Linked DNA regions of Homo sapiens. The protein of the gene in region 1 purifies or fractionates together with the protein of each later gene. This does not show direct contact. Each region holds a gene or a part of one and is shown on either strand. Other genes may lie near its edges.

Region 1 (3,500 bases):
CAATGTTGGAGACGTAAAAGTTCATGATATAAATATTTGTGGAATTAAAGACTCTTTACCAGTTATTAAATAGTATTTATTATACCTTGGGTTTTGGCTCTCCTGGACTAGTACAGGGAGGGCTGGAATCTGCACCCACTCCTCATGCTGAGTGTGCCAGCCACTTGCTGTCTCTGGGCCTTAATGTCTGCATTTGTAAACTGTAGGACTGTTTAGTTCTTTCATGGGTGTGTGAAACTTTTAATTGAGTGATTTCGAGGATGCAAATGAAGAAAGGTTAAATATCACTGTTCATCAACCCAAAATGTTTACTGCTCTGGGGAAGAAATAGGGTAAAGAAGTGTTGTGGGTGATGCAAGAATATGGAGTGTGTGCAGTTTTACGTGGGAGACAAGCAGTGGGAGAACAGTCTCCTTGCTGCCCTGTGCCTGTCATCAATGAGATTCCTCATTGAGTGTGCTTCTGTCACCTGCTTTACCTGTATAGAGAGACCTTTGAGACACAATTCAAATAAAAAGCAGTCTCTTTGTCCTGAGCATTTATTATAAAAATCATCAGTGCACAGGATTTTTTTCTTGTGCTTTGTTTTCCCCCTGCCTTATCTCTGGATTTTCACTGGAGCCATTCTCTTCTTACAGGGACATTCATACCACCACCGGGAAGATCAAGAGAGCTGTTCTGCAGTTCACTCCTGCTAGCTGGACCTATGTTCGATGGTTTGACCCCAAATCTTCTTTTCAGAGAGTAGCTGGAGTGTACCTTTTCATGATCATCTGGCAGGTATTTTTTCAGATGCCCAGAAGTTGGGAGGAAAACAAAAACTAAAATAAAAACTTTTTAGGAATTTAGAGTTAACATTAGTTTACATTGCTTTTCAGCTCCATACTTTACAAGATATAATATTCTGCAGCTGGCATGTAGAATAATTAAGCAAAGTGATGTTGTTATGCCTAAGGTCTTGCCTCATTTTGAAGACAGTTTTAAAATATGGATCTTTGAATTACAAATTAGAAACAGATTAGATTCCGTGAAATAATTTGTGTCTAGCATCCATCATCCAATGAGTTAGGCATTGGATTGCTTTTTAGAATGATCATTTTCAAGACCAAAGGAACAAATGAGAAGGCTTTTCTTACATTCCTAATTCAGTGTTTATTGGTTAAAATTGTTCCTCAGCTGTTACCACTTTGGTTAATCTGTAGGGTGCTAAATGAGTGCTGGGGAATTGGAGCCTTTTGCTGAGTCCTCCAGAGTGTTGTCCTCCGTGGAGAGAAGCTGTATTTCCAAGTGGCCCACTTCACGACGGAAGTGATTCTGACAGCCCAGGGTCTTGGCAAAAGATTATCAAGCATCTGTGTTTCTGAGAGACAGCAATTTTTTCTGATGCTCCTGGCCCCAGGTTGTTTCACAACTTTTGGAAAGTAGCCAAGGGAAACCAGCTTTTGCCTGAAGAGGATCTTTCAGAGTCATCAGAAATTATGTTTTGGACACATAAACACAAAATACTCCCAACATAAGGAAAAAATTAGCAGATGTCACTTTTAGGACAGATGATCTTCCTTGTTCACACAGAGACAATGCCCATCGCAATAAATGAAGTTTATGCATACAGAAGTGTACGTGAATAGTTAAGTAAGTAATCACTGTGGTTTGGAGAGGTCAGTATCTTTAAAAACAGGACTGTAGATGGATTGGGATTAAGCTTTGCCTTATCAGGCCCAATGTCACGGAAAGCAGAAGCTTTCTTTTATTACAAGGAGGAATGATTGGATGTGTCAAGGAGAGTAGTATAGTGCCGTTAGGATGGAACCACCTGGTGGTATGCGATGGAGCACACTGTTCCCATGAGTGTGAGCACTGCGCTGGGATCAGCTTTCCATATGTGATATTAATTAGACTATTTTTTATTTTGTGTCCTTGAAGTCAGTGCTATGGGAAAACAACATGCATTTTGTGGAATTGTAATGAACCTGCCAGTCTATGTACTGTGTTCTCCTAGCACAGTGACCGTTCCATAATCTCCACCCCTTGTTTGCTACCTGGAGCTGGGCTCTAGGCAGAGAGCAGCCACGTCCCAGCCACAAGATATTTTGTGCTACTCATCATGATGAACTGCATGAGGATGCTAACCTCAGGGAAAAGTACTACTGCTCCCAGCTGAAACTTGGACCAACCCTTCATACCTACTTTTAAGGACTGCCTTTGGTAGAGGATCTGCTCTGTCCCAGGCGTGTGCTGCACGAGTCCATCGTCATCTCTCAGATGTGTCTCCAGCTTCTTTTTTTGCTTTTTTTTTGAGATGGAGTTTTACTCTTGTCACCCAAGTTGGAGTGCAATGGCGTGATCTCGGCCCACTGCAACCTGCAACCTCTGCCTTCCAGGTTCAAGCAATTCTCCTGTCTCAGCCTCCTGAGTAGCTGGGATTACAGGCGCCCACCACCATGCCTGTTTGTATTTTTAGTAGAGATGAGATTTCACCATGTTGGCCAGGCTGGTCTCAAACAACTTACCTCAGGCGATCTGCCCGCCTCGGGCTTCCAAAGTGCTGGGGTTACAGGCATGAGCCACCGTGCATGGCCTCAAGCCTCTTTTGATTGTTAAAGAGCTTACTTATCTACATTTGGAATTCTGTTAGACCTGGCCTGATTTCTGTAAGGCAGCATAGGTGTTCTGTGGCACAGGTTTGCTTTCATGACTTCTGTATGCTCAAAGCATTTCTCTCCCGACTATCCCAGTGGATCACATGTGTGAGCTGAGTAACAATCATACAAACCAGGAAACATGACAAATAGCTGATAATCCTGTTCCCCTATGTGCCCATCCACCACCCCTGCCACCTCTCCCTGGGCCTCCAGTTGCTCCCTGCCCATAATGTACTGGCTGTTAACTAGTTTGAATAGCAATCCTTGGAAGACCACATCTATTCTCTGAAAATGCTTTGAACATACCAATTATTTCTAATTGTAGAATGTCTATTTAAGGAATAGAGGATTTTGAATTAGCATGAGGTACCAGGTTGACTAATTTCTCCGTCTTTTTCAGCTGACTGAGTTGAATACCTTCTTCTTGAAGCATATCTTTGTGTTCCAAGCCAGTCATCCATTAAGTTGGGGTAGAATTCTCTTTATTGGTGGCATCACAGCTCCCACAGTGAGGTAATTCTGCACAAGCCTGACTGTCATATGAGAACATTAACTTGCTTTAGATTGTCCTGTTTAGCATAAGGAAAGTCATATAAACTAGCAGATTTTCCATGAAAATACCATCGTAAAGAATTGTACATCCAGAATATGACGAAAATGTTTTGTTCTCAGATGTCAGTAACATTAACCAGACATTTAAAAAGAGAAGCACTTGATGAACACCACACCAATAGTACTATCCATTATTATCAGATTCCTTTACAGTCTTGGACTGCCGATCTTTTTTTCTCCTATAACATCATATTAGAAAAAAATAACAGCATAGTGATGCTGAGTTTTTTAAAAATGAGATTACTG
Region 2 (3,500 bases), on another chromosome or scaffold:
AAGTTTTTTAGCTGAACATTCTAGGTAATCTGTGAATATGTCTTGGTGGAAAAACATGTTTTGCAGCATTGGGCAAGAAAAGGACTGATAGTTCCAGGGATTTGTTCATTTTTCTCTTTGTTTCCTCCCACTATAGATGACACATTTCTTATCCCCAGCTTACTTACAGAATATTTGCAAAACATGGAACACTTGTACTTTCTAAGAAACTCTGAGACCATCACTGCTAGAAAGTTAAGATTTATAAAACTTTTTTGAAACTTTAGAATCTAGAGTATCAAGTATATCATATCTTAGAATTAATAGATATAATTAGCATACTTTCCTGAAATGTGTCATTCTTCCTAGAATTAGATTTTGTGAATATTTTATTTCAGTATGATCTTAATTGTTTTGAATGTTTTCTCCTATTCAAAGAGAAATGGTTTAGAAAGCAAGATATAGAATTTATGGTTCTTAAGGGATGTTTTATAACATATTAAACAATATTAGTGTTTTTTATAAATGTACTTGTTTTTACAAACAGATTCTGAACGGTTGCATAGCTTGTATGAACACATTGACATATGAAGAGAAACAAATATGCTTTTTCTCTCCTGCTTGACTAGGATATAATGACTACATCAAGATGAGCATTAATCCTAAGAAACTTGTAATGGGTGTTCCTTGGTATGGTTATGATTATACCTGCCTGAATCTGTCTGAGGTAGGAACAGTCATTTGTTACATAATTTTTATTATCTATTATATTTTTTAGAGTCTCTCTGTTTTCATTAGAAATATATAAACTTTAGAATCTCTGAAATATAGTTTGAGATAAAAATTATTTATTTTTACTTCTATGAAAGCTTATGATTATCATACATTTTCATTTAATAATGAAATTTATTTTAACCTTTTTTCTGTATAGTCAGGTTTTCTATGGTATATGTTTTATTTCTAAATAATTTATATATTTTTGGTTTGGCTTTTAAGAATTGCATAATTGATAATATATAACATGAGCACTTTTGCATTTCTAGGATCATGTTTGTACCATTGCAAAAGTCCCTTTCCGGGGGGCTCCTTGTAGTGACGCTGCAGGACGTCAGGTGCCCTACAAAACGATCATGAAGCAAATAAATAGTTCTATTTCTGGAAACCTATGGGATAAAGATCAGCGGGCTCCTTATTATAACTATAAAGTAAGACTTTTCGTAAGTTATGAGCATTTATTCTATTAGTTTTTGTAATTATTTTCATAATTAGATGTTTGATATCAAGAATTTCTATCAGTTTTCTTTTAGGGCATAACATGCAGACTGCTATTTACATGAGTAAACTTGTCTTTGAATCTGTAATCAGGAACTTTAGTTCCCTGGCGAGCAATTGGAGTTTTGCTAATGGTGAATCTACTCTGCTTGGGCCACTTGTCATTTAGATGATGCCATAAAAATGTGCATATCACAAACAGGATTTCTGTAACAGTTGACAATTATGTTAGGATGACTGTTGATTTTGAATGGGTTTTGGGCCAAAATAAGTTACTATCTCTGAAAGCCTCCATTTCAAAGTGGCCTACAGATTCTGATGAGACTTACATAGGGAGGAATGAGGCTGAGAACAGAAGAGGTGTCATAATCGACTTTACAATGGAAAAACTATCATTTTCAATTTATTTTATAATTAAATTATAAAGCAATGTCAAAACTTACAAAAATATTACATAAAGGAAACCTGAAGAAATACACTAAGTGATTAGCAATTCTGTCAAGTAGTGTTTAATAGGAATTGCTATACCAAAATGGCAAAGAAAAGTTACAGTTTTCATAATTTACCTTTAGCATTATAAAGGCTCTTCCACAGCTCAAAAATCTAAGTACAAATCCTCTTTGAATTTATTTCAGATTATGTTACTTTAAAAGGAGTACTAAAATGATATAAGTGAAGTTCAGCAAGGATTTATATGCTTAATTAATGGTCTGGTACCCATTTATAAAAAAATGACTGCAAACACACTACATGTCATAAATTATAATTGATATACATGTGTATGCCTCCACAGAGAGCTTTAGTGTAGAGCTTTCTAAACTTTGGAACTGAAAGTATATACCTATTAGTGAAACTAGAGTGTATTGTAATCTTATCTTTCCTAAACAGTGTTTATATTAGTCTGTCCTGGGAACTGTTAATATTACACACACAGATGCACATGTGTGCAAAATATACACACGTGTGCCATGGCCAAATATATTTAGAAAAACACTATATACTGTACGCCCCTCTTGGAGATTTGTAACAACAATTATATTAATGGGTTTGAGAAGTGCTGTAATACATAAGGTAGTTTAATTGTTTGACATATAATCTTGTTTCACAGCATTCTTAGAAACATGCAGTTCTTAGAAACTGTTTCATGGATATGGTTTGTTAAAAGTTATGGTAACCAATTACATATACAGGCATACCTTAGAGATATTGCAGAGTCAGTTCTAGACCACCACAATAAAGTAAATATAGCAATAAAGCAAGTGACATGAATTTTTTGTTTCCCTGTGCATATAAAAGTTATGTTTATACTATACTGTAGTCTGTTAAGTGTGTAATAGCATTATGTCTAAAAAAAGTACATACCTTAATTTAAAAATACTTTATTGCTAAAAAAATGATAACGATCATCTGAGCCTTTATCAAGTTATAACCTGCTTGCTGGAAGAGTGTCTTGCCTTGTCATTGATGGCTGCTGACTGATCAGGGTGGTGGTTGCTGAAGGTTGGGGTGGCTATGGCAATTTCTTAAAATAAGACAACAGTGAAGTTTGCCACGTCAATTGACTCTTCCTTTCACGAAAGATTTCTGTGTAAAACGTGATGCTATTTGATTGCATTTTACCCACAGTAGAACTTCTTTCAAAATTGGAGTCAACCCCATCAAACTCTGCTGCTGCTTTATTAATAAGTTTATAGAATATTCTAAATCCTTTGCTGTTATTTGAACAATGTTCACAGCATTTTACCAGGAATAGATTCCATTCTCAAGAAACTACTTTCTTTGCGTATTCATAAGAAGTAGCTCCTCATCTATTCAAATTTTATCACGAGATTGTAGCAATTGAGTCACATATTTAGGATTCACCTCCAATTCTAATTCTCTTGCTGTTTCCACTACCTCTGCAGTTACTTCCTTCACTGAAGTCTTGAACCCCTCAATGTCATCCATGAGGGTTGTAACCCACTTCTTCCAAACTCCTGTTAATGTTGATATTTTGACCTCCTCCCATGCATGAATCATGAATGTTCTTAATGGCATCTAGAATGGTGAATCCTTTCCAAAAAGCTTTCAGTTTACTTTGGCCAGATCCATGAAAGGAGTTACTGTCTTTGGCTGCTACAGCCTTACAAAATCTATTTCTTAATTAATAAGAGTTAAAAGTTGAAATTACTCCTTGTTCCATGGGCTGCAGAATGGATGTTGTGTTAGCAGGCATGAAAATAACATTCATCTTGTGTTCTCCATCAGAG

What was found.
Region 2: the proteins of PTDSS1 (region 1) and CTBS purify together in Homo sapiens (affinity purification with mass spectrometry; one large-scale study listed by BioGRID and IntAct). This does not show direct contact.

Annotation. Positions count from the first base shown.
Region 1 is NC_000008.11:96,303,402-96,306,901, forward strand, and holds part of PTDSS1 (phosphatidylserine synthase 1), read left to right. Parts: intron 1-638; coding exon 639-780; intron 781-3,042; coding exon 3,043-3,155; intron 3,156-3,500. UniProt on the Homo sapiens protein: Catalyzes a base-exchange reaction in which the polar head group of phosphatidylethanolamine (PE) or phosphatidylcholine (PC) is replaced by L-serine. Catalyzes mainly the conversion of phosphatidylcholine.
Region 2 is NC_000001.11:84,560,941-84,564,440, reverse strand, and holds part of CTBS (di-N-acetylchitobiase precursor), read left to right. Parts: intron 1-608; coding exon 609-706; intron 707-1,022; coding exon 1,023-1,184; intron 1,185-3,500. UniProt on the Homo sapiens protein: Involved in the degradation of asparagine-linked glycoproteins. Hydrolyze of N-acetyl-beta-D-glucosamine (1-4)N-acetylglucosamine chitobiose core from the reducing end of the bond, it requires prior cleavage by glycosylasparaginase.